Homo sapiens: one gene and its partners. The protein of the gene in region 3 interacts with the protein of the main gene of each other region in a pairwise test. Each region holds a gene or a part of one and is shown on either strand. Other genes may lie near its edges. The genes, in order: TXLNA, SPRED1, EIF4ENIF1 and EFHC1.

Evidence for each region.
Region 1: the proteins of EIF4ENIF1 (region 3) and TXLNA interact in binary tests that used the Homo sapiens proteins (3 or more experiments, as listed by UniProt).
Region 2: the proteins of EIF4ENIF1 (region 3) and SPRED1 interact in binary tests that used the Homo sapiens proteins (3 or more experiments, as listed by UniProt).
Region 4: the proteins of EIF4ENIF1 (region 3) and EFHC1 interact in binary tests that used the Homo sapiens proteins (3 or more experiments, as listed by UniProt).

The regions. Positions count from the first base shown.
Region 1 is NC_000001.11:32,174,944-32,182,696, forward strand, and holds the start of TXLNA (alpha-taxilin), read left to right. Parts: upstream 1-4,731; 5' UTR 4,732-4,833; intron 4,834-5,121; exon of another isoform or gene 5,122-5,370; 5' UTR 5,371-5,402; coding exon 5,403-5,571; intron 5,572-6,298; coding exon 6,299-6,634; coding exon of another isoform or gene 6,635-6,733; intron 6,734-7,753. UniProt on the Homo sapiens protein: May be involved in intracellular vesicle traffic and potentially in calcium-dependent exocytosis in neuroendocrine cells.
Region 2 is NC_000015.10:38,248,708-38,255,849, reverse strand, and holds the start of SPRED1 (sprouty-related, EVH1 domain-containing protein 1), read right to left. Parts: upstream 3,015-7,142; 5' UTR 2,665-3,014; coding exon 2,633-2,664; intron 1,066-2,632; exon of another isoform or gene 947-1,065; intron 1-946. UniProt on the Homo sapiens protein: Tyrosine kinase substrate that inhibits growth-factor-mediated activation of MAP kinase. Negatively regulates hematopoiesis of bone marrow.
Region 3 is NC_000022.11:31,451,834-31,458,857, reverse strand, and holds part of EIF4ENIF1 (eukaryotic translation initiation factor 4E transporter), read left to right. Parts: intron 1-207; coding exon 208-383; intron 384-2,870; coding exon 2,871-3,006; intron 3,007-3,542; coding exon 3,543-3,722; intron 3,723-4,481; coding exon 4,482-4,714; intron 4,715-7,024. UniProt on the Homo sapiens protein: EIF4E-binding protein that regulates translation and stability of mRNAs in processing bodies (P-bodies). Plays a key role in P-bodies to coordinate the storage of translationally inactive mRNAs in the cytoplasm and prevent their degradation.
Region 4 is NC_000006.12:52,423,334-52,430,357, forward strand, and holds part of EFHC1 (EF-hand domain-containing protein 1), read left to right. Parts: intron 1-353; exon of another isoform or gene 354-475; coding exon of another isoform or gene 476-481; intron 482-612; coding exon 613-834; intron 835-7,024. UniProt on the Homo sapiens protein: Microtubule inner protein (MIP) part of the dynein-decorated doublet microtubules (DMTs) in cilia axoneme, which is required for motile cilia beating.

The DNA of each region.
Region 1 (7,753 bases), on a different chromosome or scaffold from region 3:
TGTTTGAGCTTTTTCATTCTTTTGTTAAGCCAACAAGTTGAGAATTTGGCCCTGCTGGGATCCATGTAGTGGGCACTAGCTGCTCTTTGGCCAAGGCCTTCATAAATGATTCAGTCTCTCATTATCTGTCCTCTAGCCCCACACCCTGATTTAGACCGTGGCAAAGGAAGAACTTGAGGTCAAGACCAACCAAATCTGTGAATTAAAGCTGTTATTTTTTTCTCTGCAAGGGCGCTTTGCTTCAGGTCTGGGCTATGTGCAGAACCTAAGCAGGCTGTGAGAGTTAGAAGAGGCAGTATTACATGTTAGGCCCAGAACACCATGGGAAAAGGTTTATGTAGTGTATCTTAGTGGCCTGCCTAGCTGCCTCTGGGCCAGGCTGACTTCTGATGTCCACATTAGCTCGTACCTGAACCCTGTTGCTGAATGCCAGCCCTGTTCTCCTGTAACTATTATATACGCCATGGCCTGGGGGGCATTGAAGGAAGTAAGCTCTCAGAGATCCTAACACTGGCTGGGAACCTCTGACTCAGAGCATGTCTTTAAAGAGTCCACATCTGGCCAGGCGCGGTGGCACATGCCTGTAATCCCAGCACTTTGGGAGGCCGAGGCGGGTGGATCACGAGGTCAGGAGTTTGAGACCAGCCTGGCAACATAGTGAAACCCCATCTCTAATAAAAATACAAAAAATTAGCTGGGCGTGGTGGCAGGCGCCTGTAATCCCAGCTACTTGGGAGGCTGAGACAGGAGAATCACTTGAACCCAGGAGGCGGAGGTTGCAGTGAGCCAAGATCATGCCACTGCACTCCAGCTTGGGTGACAGTGCGAGACTCCATCTCAAAAAAAAAAAAAAAAAAAAAATCCACATCTTCAGCTGGGCGCGGTGGCTCATGCCTGTAATCCTAGCACTTTGGGAGGCTGAGGCGGGCAGATCACTTGAGGTTAGGGGTTCAAAACCAGCCTGACCAACATAGTAAAACCCCGTCCCTACAAAAATAAAAAAATAAAAAAAATAAGCCAGGTGTGGTGGTGGGCACCTGTGATCTCAGCTACGTGGGAGGCTGAGGCAGGAGAATCTCTTGAACCTAGGAGGCAGAGGTTGCAGTGAGCCAAGATTGTGCCAGCCTGGGCGACAGGGTGAGGCTCTTGTCTCAAAAAAAAAAGTCCACATCTTCATGAACCCTCAGACTCTGGAGTTGGGTGTCGGCTTTTTTAGCCAGCTTTTGTGGGAATTGCCTTTGACCTATTAAAGAAGGAAAGTGGGTAATGGAGTCCCAGCCACTCAAGAGACTGGATATCCCCCGAGAATGGCTTGGGTTACCAGCTATGGACCCTTGGAAGATGAATCTAATCCTTCTCACTGGTTTTTCTTTGCAAATTCATTTGCTTTTATTTTTCTAATAACAATAAACTCTATTTTCCATGTTCTCAGGGCCCCTGGGTAGACAGACACAGCTTGATTTCAGAGCAGACATAGGCGAAGAAAACATGGCATTGAGTGTGCTGAGTCCAGACAAATGTTATTTATATACACATCCAAATTTGAAGAGAAAATGTATTTCTTTAGGTTTCAAACACTGTAATAGATATAAAGCAAAAATAAAAACCTGTTGCAAAGTTCTAAATTGTCTTCTTTGGCTTGGAGTGACCCTAGACTGGATTTGGGGGAAGAGAATGAGGAGGTGTTTAAATTTGTAGCTTAACAGTGGAAATAAGAGTTGTACCAACCTGCACCTGCTCTAAAGTTTTTTTCATCGACTTTATTGAAATATAATTGACATACAATAAACTGTACATATTTAAAGTATATACACGTTGATAAATTGAAACACATATGCACCCATAAAACAACCACAAGATAGTGAATATATCTATGACCTTCATAAGCCGTAAGCTTCCCGCTTGAGAATCCCTCCTTTCTGCCCCACCTCCAGCAACCACTGATCTGTGGCTGTCACTGTAGTTTAGTTTGCATTTTCTAGAGTTTCTCTAAATGATTTTGACTTAGTTTCATCAGCACCACTCTACAGCCCTTTGAACCTTTTTTTTTTTTTTGAAACGGAGTTTTTTATTCTTGGCATCCAGGCTGGAGTACAATGGCGTGATCTCGGTTCACTGCAACCTCTGCCTCCTGGGTTCAAGCGATTCTCCTGCCTCAGCCTCCCAAATAGCTGGGATTACAGGTGCCCGCCACCACGCCCAGCTAATTTTTGTATTTTTAGTAGAGACGGGGTTTCACGTTGGCCAGGCTGGTCTTGAACTCTTGACCTCAGGTGATCCGCCTGCCTCCGCCTCCCAAAGTGCTGGGATTACAGGCATGAGCCATCGTGCCCAGCCTGAACCTCTTAAGATCAAATAGTTCACAGACTCCTCCCTTCAGTTTAGATAATTCCTAAAGCAGAGATTACAGACAAGCAGCCAGAAAGTTGATTGAACCCACAGGAAGGTTTTGCTTGGCAGAGCGTGTTTAAGTTTGAATTAGTTGCCAACATTTTTTTTTTAAATCAAATGTCTGTCTTGAAAAAGACTGTCCTGAAGTCTCCATTTTTAAAAAGAGGCCAAGCACTGTGGCTCATGCCTGTAATCCCAACCCTTTGGGAGGCCAAGGTAGGAGGATCACTTGAGGCCAGGAGTTCAAGACCAGCCTGGGCAGCAAAGTGAGATCTGTCTCTACAAAAAAATTTAAAAGTTAGCTGGCTGTGGTGGCACATACCTGTAATCCTAGCTACTTGGGAGGCTGGGGCAAGGGGATCACTTGAGTCCAGGTGGTCGAGTCTGCAGTGAGCTATTATGATCACTGCACTCCAGCCCCAGCAGCTGAGTAAAACCTGTCTAAAAAACAAAAATACAATCTGGCCCTACCCGGCCTGAGTTTCTGCTTGCTAACAATGTGCAAGAGCTGCTGTATTTTACTGCAATCACCACCTCTCCCTCACTCTGGCAGGTGCTAATATTGTTGCTATATATTGTTTATAGCAAAGGAGAAAGTAACTTGTTAACCTATGTTTCTGTCAATTATTCTTGCCTGTTCTCATTACCCAACTGGCCCCTCTAGGCTATTGTTGACCCTTCTACTACATCCTCTATCCCTCACCCCATGCATACATTTTTATGTTCTTTATCTCACCTAGAACACCCTTGTTATATGGAAATCTATCAAGGCCTGATTTATATGGTGCCTTCTCAAGAGATTTCCAGAATGCTTTTCTAGAAATAATCAGGGCCTTGGTTTCAGGACATCTAGATTCCAACCTTTCTGAGCCTCAGTTCCATCATTATACTAAAAATTGAATATCTCTTATCCAACATGCTTGGGACCAGAAGTGTTTCCAATTTGGGATTTTCTCAAATTTTACCGGTTGAGCTTCCCCAATCTGAAAATCTGAAATCCAACATGCACGGCTCTGAAGTCTTTCACTGAGCCTTTGGGGGAAATATTTAACATCCTAACAGCCCTAAACCAACGCTCAATTAGCACAACAGTTTACAATCTTCTCTACCCACAGCCTGATGCGAGGCTCTGGGACTAGACTATTTAGCCAACAGTTCTTGCAAAATTAACTGACTTATAAGTAAATAGTAATTTCAACACCTCACTGCTAATGCTGTAACAACTCTGCAGACCTAGGGAGCAAGTACGGTTTGCAGAGCACTGGGAAGGCTCTGAAGTGACCTTTGAACTGGGCCTCAAAAAATTTTGGGTTTGGCAAAAGTCAAATCTCTTAGGCTTCAAATTCCAGGCACAAGGATTGTTGGGTTTGATTTCATTATCCAGAAGCAATGGGGATACAGAATTGTGATCTCATGTGTAGGGAACTGTGGGGGTTTTTTCTACTTTAACCCCAGTGAGACTTTGTAGAGTGTGGGGTAGAGAAAAGGCTCATGAATATGCCTGAAGCCTAACTCAGCACCTTTCTGAGGAACTGACTGCCAAAATGGTAATGGAGAGGGGAAAATATGACCTACTTTCACAAGTTACCTTGACTGCCTCAGGGAAACCTGCTGTGGTAGTGTTTCTTCTGGGTGAAAGACCAGGTAATTACCTGGGTGCTGGTCTCAGACTTACCAGTTTTGAATCCCTGTTTTAACCACTCACTATCGATATGACCTTGGATAAGTTACCTAACCTTTCTCTTACTGTCCTTTTCCGTAAAATGGGGATAACAGATAGTAGTTATTTCTATGAGTGGTTATGAGAACCAAGCTATTAGATAGCGGGAAAGCACACAGTAAGCGTTCAAGGAACTGCTATTGTTATTAAAAGCCTCCTTTGGAAGAAGGACATTGAGGCCCAGAGAGAGAACAGAACGTCCAGCCACACAGCAAATCCGTGATGAAGTTGGGACTGGAGTATGGGTCTCCTGAGTCTCAGCCCAGGACTCTATCCCTCTTCCCGAGTCCTCGGAGTTCCCGGATGGAGTCACATTTGTTCACGGCCAGGGAGGAAGGTTTGATGGAGGCCTGCAGGAAACAACAGCCAGGCGCAAGGCTTTGGGAGTTGAAGCATAGCTTCTGCGAGATAGAAACAAGGTTGACATGGGCACTCGTGCAGAATGACGGGCTCCTTTTGGACTCCCAGGACTACAGTCCCTTATGCACCTTGGGATCTGCGGCTAGCCCCTGCGTAAAGAGGGACGCGTAGTCTTTTCCCTGCCCCGCCCTGCCGGGGCGCCCGCCTCCGAGGCCGCCCTCGCTTCGTCCTTCCCAGCAAGCTCCGCGCCGGCGCCGGCTATTGATTGGCTGAGGCGGGAGCAGGCGGCTGGCCGGCAGCAGTTACTCGGGGTTTCCGGTGCGAGGCCAGAGGTGGGGAAGCCATCGGACGTCGGCGGTGAGGTACGTGCAGCGGCGGCCGGTGGGCGAGACTATTTGAGAGTGTGCGGGCCGGGATGTTCTCGGCCTGTGGGGAAATCACGCCAACTCCCCGCGTGGGCCGGGGGCTGTCTGGGGATATGCGCATGCGCGGGCGTGCCTCGCGGCTTGAGGGCGCGCGGGGCGTGGGTGGCTGCGCGCGCGGGGGGCGCACGTGGGGCCTGAGGGGCGGGGGCGGTGCCGGGAGTCCCGCCACGTCAGTCTCCGGCCCTGAGCCAATCCCGCGCCCGGCCTGCCGCGAGGGGGCCGGTTGTGCCGGGAAGTGGCTCCAGGGAGAAGAGGCCTCTTCCCTCACCCGCTGTGGGAGCTGCGCCCCGAAAGCCTGCCCCGGCACGTCGGGCTCTCCTGACCCGCCAAGACCAGAGAGCCGTTGGCGCCCTCCGCCCGGGCCTGCCGGTCCGTTTATTTTAAGAAGCTTTGTGCGCCTGCTGTGGGGATTTCTGATCCAGGCTGCGAAGAATTTCGAAGTCTGGAAAATAGCAACTGTGTTTGTTTCTAAAGGATCTTCTCCTGACCCAGCATCGCTCATCACAATGAAGAACCAAGACAAAAAGAACGGGGCTGCCAAACAATCCAATCCAAAAAGCAGCCCAGGACAACCGGAAGCAGGACCCGAGGGAGCCCAGGAGCGGCCCAGCCAGGCGGCTCCTGCAGTAGAAGCAGAAGGTCCCGGCAGCAGCCAGGCTCCTCGGAAGCCGGAGGGTGTGTGCCAGCTCTGCGTTGCCAGCGGGCAGGGGGAGGAGCTGTGGGGTCGGCCTCGCTTCTGGACTTACAGGCCGAGGCCAGGTTGTCCGGGAGGAGGAGATGTAGAATGAGAGGACAGTGCTGGGGGCCGCGGTCCCCCCTGCGCTCTGGCGAGTTGGCGGAGCTGCCCCCTCTAAGCACAGGAACAGAGTTCTGGAGAGAAGCTCCGACGGGATTAAGTCAGGTGGCAGCCAAACGAGGCACCCAGTCAGGAAATCCAGGTCCCGTTAGAAACACCTCAGCCACCAGCAGCTAACTGCCCTTCCTGTTTGAGGCATTTCTAGAATGATCTGAATGGCAAGAAATGGTTTTGTGGGGGGGAAGGAGATGGACTAGAAGTTGCTCCGTGCCATCCCTGTGTGCTGATGCTTTACATACTTTTATGATCTAACAAATATGTTCGGGTGGTAGTGAGAAATAGTTGTGTCATTTTACAAGTAAACAGACTTAAAGAAGTTAGGCAACGATTACTATAATTTCTTGATTTAAAAGATGTTTCGAATCTAAATTCTGACAGGAACTAGATTTGCTGAATGATACTCCATTCTTGCTTCTCAGTTTCCATAAAAAAAAAAGTTAGGCAACATTTAACTCAAACTGATGAGTTTGGCTGGGCCTGAAAAATCCCAACCAGTGGTATAATCGTCTTCTTTCTCACTCTACCCCTCATCCTCTCCTGCTGTAGGGGCTCAAGCCAGAACGGCTCAGTCTGGGGCCCTTCGTGATGTCTCTGAGGAGCTGAGCCGCCAACTGGAAGACATACTGAGCACATACTGTGTGGACAATAACCAGGGGGGCCCCGGCGAGGATGGGGCACAGGGTGAGCCGGCTGAACCCGAAGATGCAGAGAAGTCCCGGACCTATGTGGCAAGGAATGGGGAGCCTGAACCAACTCCAGTAGTCAATGGAGAGAAGGAACCCTCCAAGGGGGATCCAAACACAGAAGAGATCCGGCAGAGTGACGAGGTCGGAGACCGAGACCATCGAAGGCCACAGGAGAAGAAAAAAGCCAAGGGTTTGGGTGAGCAGAGGGCGGCTCTTTGTGAAGCTGGTGAGGAGAGGGAGTTTGGACTTGACGTTCTCTGGGCCAGTCTGTTCTGCCAGGATTCAAAGGAAAACGGTACTTCTCAGAGCAGCAAGTCACTCTAGTCTAATCAAAGCCAGGGATGTGGGGGCCACGGCATAGAGAGATGCAGGAGTTACCAGCACAAAGCCTTCTGGGTTTTGGAGCAACTGGAGCTTGGCATGGGACCTGTTCTCTCTTTGAGAAAATGGAGACGGGAGGCTAGGGTAGGCTCCTGTGCCAGCCAGTACTACCTGCTGTGTGACCTTGGGTGTGTCCCTTCTCCTCTCTGGGTCTTAGTTTATATTTCTCTTTACAGTAAGAAAATTAGACTAGGCCAGAGTTGAAAACCCAAATATCTGCATAAGCTGGGCTGGCCATGGGGCCACCTGAAGATGGAGGCTTTACTGCTTCCTGATTAGTTGCTCTCAGCTAGCCAACTGAGAGCAGGCAAAACTACAGGCTGGGTGCAGTCAGGCTTTTTTTTTTTTTTTTTTTTTTTAAATAAAGAAAAGCCAGAAATCTAGAGTTATGTGAGAACTCTAGATTTTTTCATAGTTAGCAGCTAAAATGGTAAGAGCCAAACAAAACCCATCCGTGGGTTGGATTTGGCACACATGCCTGCGAATTGCAGTCTCCATGCTGATCTCTTGGGCCCTTCTGGGGAGGCAGAGGGAAGGCTCCCTGACTCAGTCACAGGCAATGGGGAATAGGCAGTGACAGTCATTTTACAGCAGGGTATGTATGTTTAAGAGTCTAGGCCGGGTGTGGTGGCTCACGCCTGTAATTGCAGCACTTTGGGAGGCCGAGGCGGGTGGATCACCTGAGGGTCAGGAGTTCGAGAACAGCCTGGCCAACATGATGAAATCCCGTCTCTACTAAAAATACAAAAATTAGCTGGACATGCTGGCACACGCCTGTAATCCCAGCTACTTGGGAGGCTGAGGCAGGAGAATGGCTTGAACCCGGGAGGCAGAGGTTGCAGTGAACTGAGATTGTGCCACTACATCCAGCCTGGGTGACAAGAGTGAAACTCTGTCTCAAAAAAAAAAAAAAAGAATCTAGAATCTAAGTCGA
Region 2 (7,142 bases), on a different chromosome or scaffold from region 3:
AATAGTCCCTACTGTAATTAAATCCCTATGAGCAATGGCTTTAAAAAAGAGAAAAGGGAAAAAAATGTAAGGCCCAAATAAAATCCATGTTACAGGGCAGTTTTAAACTGTGCTAAGGCCTTAATGGCTTCTGCCATGATACGTATCTTTCTTCATAATGACTATAAATAATAAATTTCCATTTCAAAACGGTTCACCTATTAAAGATGAGACATAAATTACTATATTAAAAGCTACATTCCAAATAAGTTCACTCTGTGGTTTATCTAATGCACAAGCAAACAATGCTGGCTCTAGTAAAACTGATTATCAGATGAACACATTATTTTCTAATATAATAGAGTTTTTTAAAGTAAAACCCCCAAGATTTTGTTCCCATGAAGAGTTTACCAAAATATTATGCTAAATATTATTATCGCCCTGCCCAAACTTAAAAAGTATTACAAAGCTCCTAGGGAATAATTTATTAATAAAGCAGGATAAATTTGTGAAAAAACGATTTTAAAAGTCTGGGTGAGTGAGATAATTTCCAAGTTGTCCCATACTAAGTACATTTAGATGAAAAAAAAATATTTAAAGCAATCCTCTCACTGAAGATTGCCATCGGTGTTTCAAATATCAACATCTTGGGGATTAAATCACTGGGAGTATTTTCTCAATTTACTGTAATAGCAGTGGAACGCACTATCACTATACAAAAAAACCTGTTGTCTCAATTTATTTATGGCAAGTATTTAAAAAAATGGCCATTTAGAAAAAATATATTTTACTTGTGTTAATTCACATTCCATCATCTGCTTTTTTTATTAGCTGCAACCAGAAGGAAACAAGGAGATATTCACTGCTTTAAGAAAAAAATTAAACTGGTAAGAAGTCTTTTCCCATCTCTAAAAGAAAACTTAACATTTTTAATCCAAACTTTTTGAAAGATACCAATAAAAGTTACCGTCATTCGGTTCAGCATTTTTAGCAGTTCTTCTCCTAAATAACCATTATCTGAGATAGACTTCTTGATCTCCCTCAAAGTAGGTCTAATCTGCAGAAGGCAGGGAGAGACTGTACTGCACTCTGAATGGACAGCCAGGTATTTTATGAATGGAGGCGATCACGTGATCCCAGCACCTCCCCGAACTGATATTTCCCACATAACTGTGTCAACATTCTCAGAACAGGGGTAGTTGTTTGTGTGTGCGTATGTTTTTAAATTTAACCTAAAATTTCACATTCTTCTTACCTTCTGAACTCAAAAATCTACACACAGACAAATAAGCCGCGAATTTTTTTTCTTGGGAAATCCTTTCAAGATGTCCAAGGTGATGGATGTTTAATTATTTTTTTTATGAATGAAGAGTGTGCTATGCAAATGAGGGCGATTCACAAAAAGAGACAGAACATGGCTGCCACTTCTGCTTCTACACTGCACTGACACTGCAGCAATGTACCTCCTTCTACACCCGCTCAGCAGAAGCGTGTGTTTTGGGGTGGGGAGGGAGTAAGGGAGGAGGAAATGTTGTTTGGCCTTTCTCTAGCTATTTTACGTTAAACAGGACTCGGTACAGACTTTAAAAAGTTATTTCAAAAAGGTCTGACTTTAGTAATGCACTGTATTTAAAGGAATGCATCCAAATGACTAAGTCCTAACTCACTTAACTCTTTCCAACCCTCCGAAGATAAACAAAAGTTGAACTTAATTACAAGAAAACGGATGCTAATATTCTGCTTGGAATTAAATCCCTTCTCAATAGAAAAGTGTTGCCAACCATTATTTCTCCACGCAGCTGTCACGTTAAAGCAAAACATTTAAAAGACGAAGTATTTCGTTTGGAAAGCAAGGAGAAAGCCCAAATAAGCTAAAACTTAAACCGGAATGCTCTAAAAGTTAATGAAATCACCAACATATTCAGCAATGTAAATTCGGTTACATCAACGTAAATCATGTGTTTTCACATAGCTGAAAGGTAAAAATTAGCATTCAAAATTCTTCTCCGTTCCTGAAGACACGTCCAATATTCACAAAGGTAAACTCTAGCTCAACATCGCCCACACTCCAGGTGTCCTTAATCCTATTAAATTCTAAAAATGTTTCCCTAACCCTATTTTTTACAAGAATCTTACAGGTCATAAGTTTAAAAGGGGGAGGGGGGAGAGGGTGAAGGCTTAATCGGTATTTAAGAGTCACTGACTCATCGAATTAAGATTCAAGAGCAGTTTGCTGCAGGAGGTGCTCCCACACATTAGTTTCCAAGTGAAACAGCTATAAAGGAAGTAGGATGGATACTGAAGGTATGGTGACTGGTATGTGAGTGAAAAAGGACGGGACAGGGGTCTCACAGGCAAAGGGGTAGTTTCTACTCCACTTCCATCCATCCACATTATTCCCTCTCATAGACGTACAATTGCCATCCTCTCCCAACACTTAATCCCCTACCCCAAAAGAAAGCAGCTAAATGTGGGAGGATGGGGAGGGGTGCTGCCACTAAAAATGGCTAAAGAAATCAGCTATCTCCAGAAGATGCACCGAACTCTCCAGGGTCGCAAGCTTTCCGGCACCCAAGTTTCGGATGGGTCTGGGGGAGAGCCGAGGGCGGATAGGGGGAGGGGGATTAGCAATCGAGATCAATGAGGCGCTTACTCGTTGTCAGAAGTCGCCGTCTCCTCGCTCATCTTTCCCTCACCGTGATCCGATCTGGAGATGGAGGAGCAACAGCAGGCGGGGGAGCAACAGCAGCACCGAGGGGCAGGAGGCAGCGGCGGCCGGGGGGGCGCGGGGGCAGCGGCACAGGGGCCTCACCATGGTGGATGCCTCACCCAGAACGGTACCCCCCCAGCCGGGAACCCCGGCCACCCCCGCAGGGGGGTGGCGGCAGCAACCTCCGCCGTGGCGACCCCAGCCTCTTCCCCCGCCTCAGTGCCCAGCCAAGGGATCCGAGGAGGCCCGGTGGAAAGGGAAAAAGAGAGGGGCTGCAAAGGCTGACTGGAGAGCTGCTCCTCCAGCCACTGGGGTGGAGCGCAGCGGGGTCCGGCCAGGAAGGAGTCGGCGGGCGGAGAACCCGGGAGCAGAGGCGGCGCTTCCCTCAGGGATGCGGCGAGGAGGAAGCAGAGCTCCGCTCGGTGGGGGCCGGCGGGGGGGTGCCGAGCCCAGGCTCCGGGCAGCGGCGGCGCGGTCCTGCCGGAGCCCACCCCACCATCTCCCGCCTCGCCGCCGGCTGCCCCTCAACCCCCGGCGGCGTCTGGGTCGGTCCTCAGGCGCCGGCAGAGCAGGGCTAGGGGCCCCGCGGCGGCGGATTCCTCCAGACACGCTCCAGCCGGGACTCCTCCTCAGGGGGGTGGAGGGGGCGGCGGGGAGCGTGTGAGGCGAGGGGCAGGCAAACCGATCGTTCCCACCCGGCCGGAGAAGAGCGGGCGGGCCCGGGTCCGGGGGGCAGGATCCCGAGAAGCGGCGGGAGAGGACAAGAGCGGCTGCAGGTTCCCCGCCAGCCAGTGCCCACCAGCAGCTCAGCGGGCCAGCTCCTCACGCCCGAGAGAGGGGAGCCGCGAGGGGGGCGGCGGAAGCGCTCACGCCGCCCGCTCCTTCCGCCGCCGCAGCCGCTGCCCGAACCGGGGGCGCCCGCGAGAGAAGGAGGCGAAGTAGTCCCTCGCGACTTCTCCCGGCCGCCCGCTTTCCCCGGAGGCCAGAGCGGGCGCGGGGTGGGGCTGCCGAGCGGGGTGCCCAGGCTGTGAGGGTGTGTGGGTAGGACTAAAAGCCGCGGCCTCCGGGCGAATCACTGCAACTCGAAGTCATGTGCAGCATAGCAAGTTTCAGGAAAGTAGTTCCCTCCTCCCTTCATTTCCCAAATCGTTGTCGAGCCACTTAGCGGAGAAAGGGGGAGGGAGGCGGAGGGATATCCTCCCTGCACCGTGCTCGGTGTGCGTGCGCGCGCTCCAAACTCTTGGCACGCCGCGAAAGGGGGCGGGGGTGGGAGCTGCGAGGGGAGCTGCTAGGGAGGTTGCATTGTTGTGGCGCGTTACTCCCCGTTACTCTGCTTGGAATATCCGGGTTGCTTGAACGAAGAGGCTAGAAAGACAGTGTGCTCAGAGGGGAAATCTGGAGGCTACTCTCTTCTGCCGTGTGTGTGTGTGTGTGTGTGTGTGTGTGTGTGTGTGTGTGTGTGTTTTCTTTGCAGAGCAAAGAATGGAACTGGCATGAGTTCATCTTTAGTTAGTGGGGGTTAGAAGCAGGGACTGCAAAGAGAGCTCCTCCTGCTGTCCCCCTGGTTGCACTGCTGCAGTCCCCTAGCTGCATGCACGAAGTGTATGTGTGTGTGTGTGTGTGTGTGTGTGTGTGTGAGAGAGAGAGAGAGAGAATATGAGAATGTATGTGTGTTTTAACACCTCGCCTCGCTGCCTGGATTCTTACTGCGCAAGGGGTATGCTATCAGGGCATTCATCTCGGAAAGCTGGAGTGATTGTTAATGGAGAACGACTTCCATTGAAGCCCAGGGTAGGCGTGTTACATGAATCTGGCGCAGCCAGAACGGAGGAAATAACTCCCGCTGCGAGTGAGGTTGCATAACTATAGCGCAGGAGATGCTTCTGTGGCACGAACTGCTCTGAACGGAGGCGGACCGATTGGATAGACAGCTGTCACGAATGCATTGTTAGAAGACAAAGTATGCATTCATCTCAAAAGATTTTTGCACAGAAACCTACTGGGGTTGCGGGCTGGAGCCTAAGGTCAGCCCAGCCACAGGAGTCAGAGCTCCTGGCTCTGCAAATTCTATTATCTGTTCTCCACTTAGAAAACCAGCCTGTACATGAACCACCTTAGGGGACTGAATCCCAAGTGCTCCCAAGTTCCTGACGCATCTTCCCAGATATAAGTCTCGCCCTGCGTGCAATGTTTTTCTCTTCCTTCTCAGATTTGTGCGACCTAAGAATGAAGGTTGCCGCTGGTGCCACATTAAAGAGAACAATTCCCGAGGAAAAAAAGAAGTTGGGAGAACCTCGTTAACAAGGCAGCACTCCTCTTCTACCATCCCTCTCCAGGAATCGCAGGATTGTTGTTCTGAGAATGAGCGTGCACAGTAGTGCACTGTTAACAGTGTTTTGCACGTAGCAGGTGCTTAATAAATGTTTGACGAATGAACAGAGGCGCTAAACCAGTCAATGTACCCAAAAAACCATCCCATTGATTTCTGAGGTCTCTTTATGTAACTTGATTCCTGCCTCAGCAGCAGCATTGTCCTTACTCTTGAGAAAGAGAGGGGCAATGTTGATGATGGTCTGTGCTAGACATGACCTCTAAACCTGCCTTTTTGAACTTATTCTTGCCAAGAACTTATACATGGGAGTGTTGATACTGGCCTCTTCCCCTTCCAGGACTACTGTTAACCAGTTAGGCTGCTCAAGTTTCAGTCAAGTACCATCAGTTATAATCTGTGTTCTTATCCAAGTTACTGAAACTCTGGGCCTGCATAAAATGGGGATAATAGTACTTAACTTACACAGCTGTTGTGCTGATGAACGAGATAATAATATACAGAGTTACTTAGAACAGATTAAGAATTCACAGTAAGAATAAGTCCTAGTTCTTACTACTGTTTTGTCAGAGATAGTAATAAACTTCATGGCAAAATAGTGGCAGATGCTCTGAGGATTAAATGTAAAGCATTCAATATTCTTGTTCATGCATTCAACAAATAACTATCAGTTGCTAGACACATGGCCTGGTCCTTAGTAAGCCATTAATAAATGAAACTATCACAGTTATTATGATTAAGTAAATAGAAGGAAAGTCGGTCATTTGCAAAGGCCTTTATCTTTTGAAGATTTGCATCTGTTTGAGGTTCTAGTGTATCAAGGAAATTGTCAGTATAGTCTTTGGAAGAATCTTGGTTGTCATGAGCCAGGCACTGTGCTGGCTATTTCCACATTCCACATACACCACACACTGCTTACATAAAGGGAGCAAGATGTGATCAATAGCCCAAATTAATGCTTTAAAGATTGCTCTCAACTCCACGACCAAGACATAGTCAGCAAACCATCCACAGCCTTTGGTGGTCCTATGCCATTTCTAGAACACTTTTGTGCCCTTTTTTCAACAACGCATTTGTAGTTCTCTCACCCAGTTGTTAAAGATCTCACCAACTTTTTAAAAATTTGCTTTGGTTTAGCAGAGCTCAGAGTCTTCTACTCTGAAGCAGTCAGAAATGGTGCTACTGCTCAGAGCCAAGGGATCTTCTAGTCTGACTGTCAATCACTGGCTGCTCTATACTCAGGAGGCCTCGACTTATCTATCCGGGTGTCTGGACCTTAAGAGTAAAGAGACGTACCAACCAAAGACAATGTGTGAGATCTTATTTGGATCGTGACTTAAATATTTTTAAATTTGGGACAACTGGAGAGATTTGAACATTAACTGGAGATTTGATGAAAACAAGGAATTTTTTTTAAGTATTGGTTTATGGCAACATTTTCTTCAAGTCCTTACCTTTCAGAGATATGTACTAAAATATTTACAGATGAAACGTTATGCTTCAGAATAATCCACTGGGGTGAGGAGTAGGAAGAATGGGTAAGGATATAGATGAAACAAGATTGGTTATAGATTAATGATGAATACATTCTCTTTACTATTTTATAATTTAAAATGTTCTATAATAATTTTTTTAAAATACACTGCAAGTACTTAAAATGCAGATTCCTAGACCCCAGCTCAGAAATTGTGATCACTAGGTCTATGATGGGGCCATGCTTTTGTAAGTATGCCAGGTGCTTGGCCCTTTTTAGTCCTTCATCATCTACTCCCCCTTTCCTTAAAACCATTTTTGTCATCCTGTCTCCCAGCACATCCGTGATTGAAAGCTGTGTTCCAGCTAAACACAAAAAAGGGTGGCCAGTGGTATATCATAAGCTTAGATAGACACTGGTCAAGGCCAGAGGGATAGTTCAGTTAGGAAAGGGGATCCAGCCAGATGTGAGAAGCTAAATACAGATCACAGTTTTGTCTTAAGCTCCAACTCCATTCAGTTGGTACTAATCAAGAAGAATTCTATGGCCACATTCGGGCTCAGCAAGAAAGGAGATACTTATATTTGCTCAGTTGTGTTTTCTAGGTAGCCCTGTGGGAAGGAAGCTAGTCACAATAGCTGGTTATCACA
Region 3 (7,024 bases):
GGTATTCTAGCTTTATTAAGGCTTTTTTCCTTTTCTGCCTCCCGTAGAAGGGGGACTGTTTTATTCTTGCAAGTACAGTACCTGCACGAGAAGTCTGCTTTTTAAGTCATGTGTGGCTCTTCTACATGTATACTGATGGCTGAAGCCACAGAGGGACACTGGAGTGATTTACTTATCAGACGGTTTTTGTCCTGGTTTTGCTTTCAGGTATAGTAGAGTGCAATGGAGGAGTGGCCGAAGAGGATGAAGTGGAGGTCATCCTTGCACAGGAGCCTGCGGCTGATCAGGAAGTGCCAAGGGATGCTGTCTTGCCTGAGCAGTCCCCAGGAGACTTTGACTTTAATGAGTTCTTTAACCTTGATAAGGTGCCATGCTTGGCTTCGGTGAGTGTAGCAGCACACTTAAAAAATGTGTGGTTAAATTTGACCTGAGTATTTAAGACATCGGTTTGAAAGTGTTGTTTTGCTAGATGCTTTTGGGGTTTTTGGCTTTTATTCTTACATATTTAAATTTTTGTTGGCTTTGTTTTGAGAGGCTTAATGGATAATATGAGATTTTTGTACCAGTTAACTCTTTTTTAAGCTGGTGGTGTTAGACTAAAAATTCTTTTTTTGTTGTTTTTTTTTTTTTGAGTTGGAATCTTACTCTGTCACCCAGGCTGAAGTGCAGTGGCACGATCTTGGCTCATTGCAACCTCCGTCTCCTGGGTTCAAGCGATTCTTCTGCCTCAGCCTCCTGAGTAGTTGGGATCACAGGTGTGTGCCACCATGCCCAGCTAATTTTTGTATTTTTAGTAGAGATGGGGTTTCACTATGTTGGCCAGACGGGTCTTGAACTCCTGACCTTGTGATCCTCCTGTCTTGGTCTCCCAAAGTGCTGGGATTACAGGCGTGAGCCACCGCACCTGGCTTTTTAAAGTTATTTTTAGAATTCCTGTTTATCACTAAGATGCTTATATTTTGGATACACTCCCCAATTTTTCACAGTGATGTATCATGCTTATCTTATATTTTAATTAATACAAAATTAGTGCACTTAAAAGTCAGCATTATTTAAGGTATGAGCATCTACAGGTGGAATGTGATTGAAATTGTCTAGATAATTCCTCTGAAAATAGAAATTCTGGAAACAATAATTAGGGTCTTGAATTAAAATCCCTTCAAAAGAAGTATATTGTGGCTTAATTTGGGTATGGATTATGAAAACATTCTTCCAGATAAGAACAAAGAATAAATCTAAGCTTCCCCTGCTTAACTTTGGAAACTGTGGGTTCCAGATTTCAAATAAAACAGTCACTAATTCTGTCATCCATGTACCAGTTTTTGAAAAAGCATGTTTTCTGTTTATCAGTGGGATTGACGTGAAAGTATATGACTTATTTTCAAGGATATGTCTGATTTTTGGATAGATGTTTGCTCTATCTTGTCTTTTCTAAATATTGATAAGAATACTGCAAAAAATCAATTTGGATATTTGACTGAATTTATGGTATGATTTGAATTGAAAAATTTTTTAAATGCTTAAATCTAGTTTTTAAGAAAGATTGGCACTATTTCATAATTTCTACCAAAGCAATTTATTGTTCATAGTGTGTTATTTAATTGTCCTTATTAAATGTAAACTATGGAGGTTGGATTTGGAAACAGAAAACACCTGAAAACTCTCTATTAATCTCAAACAGAAATTAGAGATCAGTTGAAATTTCATCTTCCACAATCATACTTTTTCTAAACTTTGACTTGGAATTACAGTCTTTATGAGCTCTGCTTTTTTAGCCTTTGGCTTCTGAAACTCTCAAGATTGAATTTCATAATGTTCATTACAACCTTGAAACCACTAAGTTTGAAGCAATGGTTTTCTTTCATCAGTTCCCCATACTTGATATTTAGTTGAAGGTCACTCATCAGCTTGTCAGTGGAATGCTGTGGCATTGACACTGTTCTCTGAGAACATTTGGTAGTACGTGGATTTACTCCTGAGGCAAAGGATAGAAACCCAAAAACCTTTTTGTAGCATAGAGGCTTTGCTTTATATTCTTAGAAAGTAGTGGTGGTTCATGCCTGTAATCCCAGCACTTTGGGAGGCCAAGGCAGGTGGATCATTTGAGGTCAGAAGTTCGAGACAAGCCTGGCCAACATGGTAAAAACCCATCTCTACTAAAAATAAAATTAAAAATAGCCAGGCATATGGTGGCGTATGCCTGTAGTCCCAGCTACTCGAGAGCCTGAGGCATAAGAATCACTTGAACCTGGGAGGCAGAGGTTGCAGTGAGCCAAGATTGCACCCCTGCACTTCAGCCTGGGCAACAGAGCGAGACTGTCTTAAAAAAATAGTAGACCGGGTGTGGTGGCTCATGCTTGTAATCCCAGCACTTTGGGAGGCCAAGGCGGGCGGATCACAAGGTCAGGAGATCGAGACCATCCTGGCTAACACGGTAAAACCCCGTCTCTACTAAAAATACAAAAAATTAGCCGGGCGTGGTGGCAGGCGCCTGTAGTCCCAGCTACTCAGGAGGCTGAGGCAGGAGAATGGTGTGAACCCGGGAGGCGGAGCTTGCAGTGAGCCGAGATCGTGCCACTGCACTCCAGCCTGGGTGACAGAGCGAGACTCTGTCTCAAAAAAAAAAAAAAAAAAGTAATAAAAAATAAAAAAGGAAAGTAAGTAGATGGTTATACTCAAGTTTGGGTTATTCAGAAATTACCCAGGATGGAGGAAGAAAAAGGTGTTCAAATTCCTAGGTTCTGAGAGTATTTATCTTCAGGTCACGAGCATGAAAGGAAGTTTCAAAGTAAGTGACCCTTTCATAAGATTTAAACCTTCTTGTCCTTTTTCATCTAGAAACTATTAGTTTTTATTGTCTTTTTCTTCAGATGATAGAAGATGTTTTGGGAGAAGGGTCAGTCTCTGCCAGTCGGTTCAGTAGGTGGTTCTCTAACCCGAGCAGATCAGGAAGCCGATCCAGCAGTCTTGGGTCAACACCACATGAAGAGCTAGAGAGACTTGCAGGTAAAATGGCTTCAGATTCTGCCCTTGAAGGTAAACCTGGGTTTTTCCCTGATATGGTTCATTTTATCTTCATTAGTCAGGAGTCAATTAGGGTCAAAGGGTCTCTGGACAACTGAAAAGCCTTCAATTTGTGTCCTTTTAATATTGTTGAAGGGGCCGGGTGCAGTGGCTCACGCCTGTAATCCCAGCACTTTGGGAGGCCAAGGCAGGCAGATCACAAGGTTAGGAGTTTGAGACCAGCCTGGCCAACATGGTGAAACCCCCATCTCTACTAAAAATACAAAAATCAGCCAGGCGTGGTGGCGGGCATCTGTAGTCCCAGCTACTCAGGAGGCTGAGGCAGGAGAATCGCTTGAAACTGGCAGGCGGAGGTTGCAGTGAGCCGAGATTGCGCCACTGCACTCCAGCCTGGGCGAAAAAGCGAAACTCCATCTCAAAGAAAAAAAAAAAAAAAAAGAAAGAAAGAAAAATACTGTCGAAGGCATGTTTCTTTACTGGAACAGATTAATTTTGAGTATGTTTATTTGCAATATCAGGTCTGGAGCAAGCCATCCTCTCTCCTGGACAGAACTCGGGGAATTACTTTGCTCCTATACCATTGGAAGACCATGCTGAAAATAAAGTGGATATTTTAGAAATGCTACAGAAAGCCAAAGTGGATTTGAAACCTCTTCTTTCCAGCCTTTCTGCAAATAAAGAAAAACTTAAAGAAAGCTGTAAGTGTTTATGAATATCTGTTTTAGATATCTGAAAAGGTCTAGATGTTCAGTCTTCAGGCAGTTGGGTCTAACATAACCTCTGTTTCATAAAAAGTCAAATATATATTGGGTTTTTGTTTAATGTTCTTTTTTAAAAACTCATTTCATCAAACAATACCACCTCTTTGAGAATCTCACAGTGGGTCATGAGCCCTATGAGAACTTTTCCTGTAAGTTCTTACCTAGGGTCTGGTTGTAATAATCCAGTGAATGTTGAAAACAAACTCCAGTGAATGTTTTATTCCTCCAGAGCATAACTTACCATTTCCTCACAAATCTGCCCTAGTCTTCCATGTTCTTGCTTAGGCTATAAATTCTCAACATAAAAACTTAGTGATATAATGACCACGGTGCAGGCAGCAATCTTGGCAATGTTGGGCTATCTGGGATTCTTGTCCCAGGTAACAAGTCTCCCAGAAGACTCATATCCTTCTGCAGGATGCACAGCAGGAGCTTGTCAAGTTTTAAAGAATAGCACTTCATAGTTGTGGTCCCCCAGTTTCTAGCATCTAAACATTTTAGGTTTAGTTTATGCCATCTCTTAGTACACAATTTGATTTTAAGTGTTATTAGTTTATTTTTGGTGTCAGTCTTTTCTGACAGTCTCATCTCAATTTTGAAATAAATTATTTTCATCTTATCTGTCATACTAGCCAAAGAGAATTCCTACCAGATATCTCTTTGCTTGATTTAACCTGGACGTTCTCAACTTCTCAGCACATTCAGGGGTTGTGCTTTCAGTGGAGGAGGTAGAAGCAGGTCTGAAGGGCTTGAAGGTTGACCAGCAAGTGAAGAATTCAACTCCCTTCATGGCAGAACACCTAGAAGAGACCTTGAGTGCCGTAACCAACAATCGACAACTGAAGAAAGACGGAGACATGACTGCGTTCAACAAGCTAGTGAGCACAATGAAGGCAAGTGGGACTTTGCCTTCTCAGCCCAAAGTCAGCGTAAGTATCTGACACAAACCCCCCACCCTTTTCTCCTTTTTTTTTCTTCTTTTTCCCACCACAATAAAAGGATTTTTAAAAAGGTATTCTGAGTAAGTTGGAAATTCTTTAGTAGTCATTTGGTCCTTGATGCTTTTGTGTGTTCCTTAATTATTGATATGCTATTTGTTACTGGAAAAAGCAGGCTTGTGGTTAATTTATATGTATTGTGGGTGACAGTATAAAGATTAAAAGATTCAGTCTTAATGGTAATGCCTGTATAACTTTAAGTCACTGCTAAAATGAGGTATAAAACTATCTTTTTGGATGAACTCCAGAGACAATTTTCTTGTTATTCAGCTACTTAAGTTCATATTCTTTACCATATTTGTATAGTAAAATCTTTATTCACATCTTCTAATTATTCCCAGATACCAGGGATTACCTGCATTCTTGCAGTCATACAAATCATTTGTAAAGTATCTAAGATGGGGCTGAGCACAGTGGCTCACGCGTGTAATCCCAGCACTTTGGGAGGCTGAGGCAGGCAGATCACCTGAAGTCAGGAGTTTGAGACCAGCCTGGCCAACATGGTGAAACGCCATCTCTACTAAAAATAAAAATTAGCCAGGCGTGGGGGCATGCGCCTGTAATCTCAGCTACTTGGGAGGCCAAGACAAGAGAACTGCTTGAACCTGGGAAATGAAAGTTGCAGTGAGCCGAGGTCACGCCACTGCACTCCAGGCTGGGCAACAGAGTGAGACTGTCTCCAAAAAAAAAAAAAAAAAGTAAGATGGGTTTGTCAGGATAATTACATTCTGTCAATTTACTAATGGAAAAAGTTGTGGCTCCAAGTTAAAAACAAAACTTGTAGGCATGAAGTTAGGTTACAAGGTGACACAACTGCATATCACCTTGTAAATGCAAATGTTTATAATATACTGGTTCTTTGTCCTAACAATTTTGAGAGGGTAGTTCTTACCCATAGCCTATGTGTTAATATCACTATCTCTTGATACAAACTAATGTGGAAGCAGGGTAGATATGAATAATAAAAACATAAACATGGACTTATTCTAGTTGCTAAGTTATAGCAAATTTACCAAATTGAGTTTTCTCTCTTTTTTTCCTGTTCCCTGCTTGCCTGGGAACTTACCAGTTAGCCAAGATGCAAGTAGCAATAGCTGTTTGAATCATTATGTCTTATACCAAAAGAAAGCAACTGACTTTTAGCATTCCTTATCTGACCAATAGGACAGACAGAGGTTCCATTATTCCTTAGTGCCAGGACTGACCTACACTTGAAAGGAGGCACCTCAGATAGGTAGACTGACTTCTTTGTATCTGACCACACCATACCAGTTGCAGGAGAATGTCCCTGTAAAACTGCTTTAGAGTTACTTTTATACAAAGAATTATTAGATACAAATGCTTTCAAATGAAGATCAGACTGAAAGATGGTAGACTATCCTATTTTCCTTTCTCGTTACATTTGTGTCTTGGTGATTGGGTGCTGACTGCAATGGTGTGGTTCATATCTTATAATTAGCTTCTTTCTTTTGGTGTGAGCAACTAAAAATATGGAAGGGGGCATTCAGCAGTTTACCTGATGTTTTTCCACATTTTATTGCAGATATGATTCTAGGATTTGATATTAACACAATTTACTCGAGTTGTAAGGGCAGTTGGTTTGATGTTGGGGTTTTAGCACTCAGAAGTGTATCTGGTTTTAGCTGAGCAAATGAGCCTCAAACACCTGCCAAACGGATGGATGACACATTCAAGTGGCTAGGCAAAGGCTAAGACAAACTCAGCTAGCAGGAAAGAATACAACAAGGAAAGTAATGGAGTAAGAATAGCAGGTGTTATCTCAAAATATTGCTCAATTTGCATGTTGTTAAGTCATGGTTTACTTTTTGAATTCGGTGTCTTTAATTACTACTGCTGTGTATGTTTTGTATACTATTTCTGATCTGCCTCCATCCATTTAGGTTGTCATATTGGTTCATCCAAAAATAATACATGCTGGTTCAATCTAAATTCTGTTTTAAATTATAGATTCTATCCTCCAAGTATAATAAGCCATGCAGTATAAAGTTGTCTATTTGTTTTTATTAGATGGAAGTAAATGACTCTTAAAGAGATTACTTATAAAATCATCTGCCTTTAGTCCCAGTTCCAAAATCAACAATAAAATACTTGGGTATTCTTGAGCTATTTGTCATGCCTAGACACTGCTTTGGACTTTGACAGCTCCATCTAGTGGAAGGGAAACTACACCAGAGAAAGCACTTCACACAGAGCTAAATGGGCATAGGGATGTCCTGAAAT
Region 4 (7,024 bases), on a different chromosome or scaffold from region 3:
TAGATGAGATACTCTTTTAATCTCTCATGCAAGGTGAATTGGTAGTTAAATTGGGCATTACAGAGCACAGCTTTAAATTTTACTTTAAGCTTAGGTGGCTACTTCGCTCCTTGTTCTTGTTCAAGTGTTTTAACTTAAAATACAGAATCTTTTAATGTAGGTAAGCTTTTGTTTTGTTTTGTTTTTTTGAGACAGAGTCTCACTGTTGCCCAGGCTGGAGTGCAGTGGTTCAATCATAGCTTATTGCAGCTTGGACCTCCCAGGCTCAAGTGATCCTTCCACCTCAGCCGACTATAATAGGCACAAGCCACCACACCCAGCTAATTTTTTTTTTTTTTTTTTTTTTTTTTTAGTTTTTGTAGAGACAGCATCTTGTTGCCCAGGCTGGTCTCGAACTCTGGGGCTGAAGTGATTCTCCCTCTTCAGCCTCCCAGAGTTCTGGGATTATAGGCACGAGCCACCATGCCCAGCCTTAATGTTGGTAAGCTTCTTGATGTAAGTTTTGTGATGCTTATAAGCAAAGATTCAAGTTATATTTTTAAAAGTTAGTTTTTTTTTTACCTAACAAATATTTGTCTAATGTTATTAATGACACATTCTTTTCTTCTTCAGAAAACAGCCTTCCACAGAAGTCAGACGCTGAGCTACAGGAACGGCTATGCAATTGTTCGACGTCCAACAGTTGGGATAGGCGGAGACCGGCTCCAGTTCAACCAGCTGTCCCAGGCTGAGCTGGATGAGTTGGCCAGTAAGGCACCAGTCTTAACTTATGGCCAACCTAAACAAGCCCCACCTGCGGATTTTATTCCTGCGCATGTGGCCTTTGACAAAAAGGTATCATCTGGAATTTTAGGGTACCCCTTGAATTAGGGTCTGAGAGCCAACTGCTTGCAAAAAAGTTAAAACAGTAAACCACAGAATTTCCAAAGGGCTCTGAGGAGAAAATTGTTCAGATGCCTTAACCCTTAGTCATGGACAGCTGAACTCAGGCTAAAAAGAGGCTTTCTTTAGTCAGGAAGCTGATTACAGGGAGTAAAGTAGTTCCCTGTAGACTTCACCAGACTATTTTCCAAATGCAGTTAAAGAAAAGTTGGCTATAATTCTGAATTCTTGAATTTATATTCTATGTTTATCAGCCGTGTGTTCTCCACTTTTTAAAGGTAACTGTATTCTGTAATGGTGACATATCTAATCTTCATGAGATGCAGAATATCATTATGAAAACAATGACTCCATCTATTGTCAGTTTTCTGCAAGGCAGTCTCCATAAGTTTTTGGTTTTCAGGGAACATTTCATGTTTGATATTACATAACCAATGGGTGGTATAACATTTTTGTTTGTTTCTCATTTATCTTTATGTTTTTGCAATGTGAGTTTCCTCATTTCCATCTATTGACATTACCACATCATTCTTGTTTTTCCTTGTCAATGAGCCTCCTCTTTTCACTAAAGTGAAGTAGCCCTAGCCCTGACCATGTAGCAGAATCACTGGCGAGATTTTTAAGAAAGTTACGTTATTCCAACCCTCATCAGTTCTAATTTCCAGATGAGCTTTATGTGTAACTGGTTCTGAGAAGTACTGATCAGTTTTGATAAGTTAGCTTTCTTAATTTACTCTTAGTCTGTTTCTTTTCTTGTCTTAATTTTTATTTTATTATTCCTGTTAAATGTCTATAACATTTTCATCCAGCCAGCCAACTTTTATTGAGTACCTGTTGTAAGCTAGAGGCTGGGGAGGAGCTATGCCATTTACATGATAGTCACTTATTTTTAAACAATTTCAGTCTCTCAACTAGAATCTGTATCATTTCCTCTTCCCCACTTAACTCATTTATAGGGACACATTCACATATGCATTCATAGGCCGAACCTAAACATCCACTAAACAGTATGATTTATATAATTGGATGTATCTTTTCCTTTTGCTTGTTTCTTTTGTTTATTTGTGGCTTTGACAGACATTGCAAAATCAGCAGAGAAGGGAGAGGGCTGAAAATACAAGAGAGAAGTGGGATAGGCACTAAATAATTACCAAGATATGAATCCTGGTATGTTTAATTTTTACTGAAAAGAATAGTAAGTAACTGTTATAAAGTAGAAGGTGATAAAGTGATATATGTCGTAAGAAAGTATTAGTAAAATTCAGAGGAGAAATTGCGCTTGAGTAGGAAATAGGCTTCCTATTTTTTGTTTTCTATGTTATTTTACACTAATTGTTGTTACTTAATTTGTACTTATTTAATATTCATAATTCATTTCTTTAAGGATAGTGCACATAAAAATATTATTTTTATTTTCCAATTCATTTTACTTGGATCATCACAATTTCTAGATAAATGAGCCTTAGCATAGATAATGGGGTAGAGAGAAGCTAAATGCATGACTTTGAAACTAAGTTTGTTTGTTTATAATAAGGGAATTATGGTTTCTCTGAATTAAATGAAGGTTCTAATTTTAAATGAAGGACCTCTAATACCCAGAGGTCCACATAATAGCCAACATATTTGTCTATATTTTGGAAATTCTTAGGACTGTTCCTCATAGACAGAATATAACTTCATTTCTTACTTAGGTAATAAAGACCAGGACATCTATTCCAAGTGCCCTCATCTTTTCCCCTTGCTCCTGTATAATTCCAGCATCACCTACTATATTGTGTTTCCCAGACTGACTTCCAGCTCTTTATTTCTGATGTTCTTCTTTCATCTTTTTCATCTTCAAGTTTCATATTATTTCTATTTCAGACACTCTAGTGACTGCTTCTCTAGCTAGAGTCATATCATCCTGTCCTCTTTCTATAATACCTTGTGATGCCTTTAAGCAAGATAACTTTGTTTCTCACTTGACTGTCAAATCACTTACAATCTGACTTCTCCCTACCCACAGCCCCAGAATACTTTCTCCTAGGTAGCCAGTGCTGTCCTTTTACCAGATCTAGAGAGGTTTACTTTGCCAGCATTGTCTTTGGCTTGTTTATGCCATCTGACACTGTTGACCCTTCCTCCCTTCTTGAAACTGTGCTCTTCTTTTGCCTCCATGACTCTCATTTTCCTCCTTCTTTCTATGTGGTTGCTTATTCTTTAGCCTCCCTTCCTCTTTTCAATTCTTAACTTACAAGTATTTTCAAGGCTCTATCTCATTCTTTATATAATTTTCTTGAGATCTCACCCACTTTCGTGATTTCAACCGTCACCTCACCGTAGAGAATGTCACTATTTAGTTCCAACTCTGACATCATTGAGACTCCAGATCTGTATCCCCCTGGCCCATGGGATATCTTCACCTGGATGAACTGTTGGTACCTCAAGTTCTGTATGTCTCTAACTTATCTCTATCCCTCACCTTTTCCCATAGATCTGCTTTCCCTGTGTGGTTCCACTAGGTAATCCAAGCTTGAAACCTGAGCCATCTTTGGCTTTTTCTCTCCTTTATCCTCCACACTTAATGAGTTGCCAAGTCAAATATCTCTCACTTTCATTTCCTCTGCCACTATCATAGTTCAGACAAGCCAAATGACTACCTAACTGTTGTTTTAGTCTCATTCCTAGTCCTTATGCTTATAACAGGTATGCTGCCTTGTTTATTCTCTAGAGTTCAGCTCTGATTATGTCATTTTTCTGGGAAAATGCCATCAGGCTTTCTTAACCAATACAGTAAACATTACCACCATTCACCTCACTGTGACATGAAAGTCATCTTTCATTCTTCTTTCCCCTCACAATCCACATCTAATCTATTAGCAAGTTCTATTGTTTCTGCTTCTAAAATATGTAACTAATTCATTTACTTATTTTCATCCTCACTATTACCATAAATTTATTTTCCACAGAGCAGCCAGGCTTATTTTTTGAAAATCAGATTATGTCACATACTGACTGAAACACTTCCATGGCTTCCCTATCATCTATAAAGATCCAACTCTACAGGTTCCTCACAGCCCTACTGGAGCTGGCCCTCCCTGCTCTCTCCCCAGCCTCATCTTGGGTCCTTTTTCTCACCTATCATGTTTCAATACATTGGATTTATTTTTACTGATTTCCTTGAAATGGCAGCATTTGAAAATTCCAATTCAGGGCCTTTTTGTACATGGCATTTCTCCTATCTGAAATAGCTTCCCCACCATCCTTAAGTGGCTGACTCCATCTTTCCTTTCAGTGAGGCTTTTCCTGGCCACTCTGCTATGGCAGTTCCTCCTCATTTTTCTATATCACTTCCCTCTCTTTTTTTTTTTTCCCCTTTGCAGCACTATATTATAATTTGTGTTGCTGATTTGTTTAGTGTTTATCTGTCCCACCTGAGTGTATACTTCATGAAGGTAAGGACTTATATAGTTTATTATATATTTAGTGCTCAATAAATATCAGTTCTAAAATGACATGAATAATTAACAAAATTTATTTCTTGTCTGTGTCACTGCTGAAAATTGGCAAGTCAAACACGTACCATATATGCTTATAATAATGTAAAATTAAAAATGTGACTTGGCTTTTTATAATTGTGTGTGATATGAAAATATTTATGCAGCATTTCCCCCCTTCATCTTGAAGTAAATACAAATATTTTTATGTTTATTGTGGCATTCTGAGCACTTCCTGGGAGTTAGAAGACCTGGATTCTAATTCTGGGTCTCCTACCAGCTAACATTGTGACCTTGTAGTCACAATCTCTAATTTCCTCGTCTATAAACTCAGAAGGTTAGAATACATGATAATCAGGAGCCCAGCCTGCTATAAAATTCCATGAAAAGTATATTTTTAAACACAGTATTTAAATATAATTTTTCTTTTCTTTCTACGTAACAATCAAGTTCTTATTCTACCTGGGAAAGCTGATGTTATCCCACTACTTTAAAAACAATTTTTTTTATTTCCATAGGTTACTGGGGAACAGGTCGTGTTTGGTTACATGAGTAAGTTCTATAGTGGTGATTTGTGAGATTTTGGTGCACCCATCACCCAGGCAGTATACAGTGCCCCCAATTTGTAGTCTTTTATCCCTCACCCCCTTCCCACCCTTTCCCCCTGAGTCCCCAAAGTTCATTGTGTCATTCTTATGCCTTTGCATCCTCATACCTTAGCTACCACTTATGAGTGAGAACATACAATGTTTGGTTTTCTATTCCTGAGTTACTTCACTTAGAATAATAGTCTCCAGTCTCATCCAAGTCACTGTGAATGCTATTAATTCATTCCTTTTTATGGCTAAATAGTATTCCATCATATATATCACATTTTCTTTGTCCACTTATTGATTGATGGGTATTTGGGTTGGTTCCATATTTTTGCAGTTGCAAATTGTGCTGCTATAAACATGCATGTACAAGTATCTTTTTTGTATGATGAGTTCTTTTCCAATGGGTAGATACCCAGTAGTGGGATTGCTGGATCAAATGGTGGTTCTACTTTTAGTTCTTTGAGGAATCTTCACACTTTTAGTTCTTTAAGGAATCTTCCATAGTGGTTGTACTAGTTTACATTCCCACCAGCAGTTCCCAGTTCATTGCATCCACACCAACATCTAATATTTTATGATGTTTTGATTATGGCCATTCTTGCAGGACTAAGATGATATCACATTGTGGTTTTGATTTACATTTCCCTGATCATTAGTGATGTTGAACATTTTTTCATATGTTTGTTGGCCATTTGTATATCTTCTTTTGAGAATTGTCTATTCATGTCCTTAGCCCACTTTTTGATGGGCTTCTTTGTTTTTCCTTGCTAATTTGTTTGAGTTCATTGTAAATTCTGGATATTAATCTTTTGTCAGATGTATAGATTATGAAGATTTTTTCCCACTCTGTGGGTTGTCTGTTTACTCTGTTGACTGTTCCTTTTGCCGTGAAAAAGCTCTTTAGGTTAATTAAGTCCCAGCTATATATCTTTGTTTTTATTGCATTTGCTTTTGGGTTCTTGGTCATGAAACCCTTGCCTAAGCCAATGTCTAGAAGAGGTTTTCCAATGTTATTTTCTAGAATTTTTATAGTTTCAGGTCTTAGATTTAAGTCCTTGATCCATCTTGAGTTGATTTTTATATAAGGTGAGAGATGAGGATCCAGTTTTATTCTCCTACTTGTGGCTTGCCAATTATCCCAGCACAATTTGTTGAATAGGGTGTCCTTTCCTCACTTTATGTTTTTGTTTGCTTTGTCAAAGATCAGTTGGCTGTAAGTATTTGGCTTTATTTCTGGGCTCTCTGTTCTATTCCATTGGTCTATGTGCCTATTTTTATACCAGTACCATGCTGTTTTGGTAACTATGGTCTTATAGTATAGTTTGAAATCAGGTAGTGTGATGCCTCCAGGTTTATTCTTTTTGCTTATTCTTGCTTTGGCTATGCGGGCTCTTTTTAGGTTCTATATGAAGTTTAGGATTGTTTTTTCTAATTCTGTGAAGAATGATAGTGGTATTTTGATGGGAATTGCATTGAATTTTTAGATTGCTTTTGGCAGTATGGTCATTTTCACAATGTTGATTCCCACCCTATCAGCATGGAATGTGTTTCCATTATTTGTTTCATTATTTGTGTCATCTGTTATTTCTTTCAGCAGTGTTTTGTAGTTTTCCTTGTAGAGGTCTTTCACCTCCTTGGTTATGTATATTTCTAAGTTTTTGTTTGTTTGTTTGTTTTTCAGCTATTGTAAAAGGGGTTGAGTTCTTGATTTGATTCTCAGCTTGGTCGCTGTTGGTGTAAAGAAGAGCTACTGATATGTGTATATTAATTTTGTATCCAGAAACTTCGCTGAATTCTTTTATCAGTTCTAGGAGCTTTCTGGAGGAGTCTTTAGGATTTTCCAGGTAAACAATCATATCATCAGTGAACAGTGACAGTTTGACTTCTTTACCTATTTGGATGACCTTTATTTCTTTCTGTTGTCTGATTGCTCTGCCTAGGACTTCTTCTAGTACTGTGCTGAAGAGGAGTGGAGAGAGTGGGCATCCTTATGTTGTCCCAGTTCTCAGAGGGAATGCTTTCAACTTTTCCCCATTCAGCATTATGTTGGCTGTGGGTCTGTCATAGATG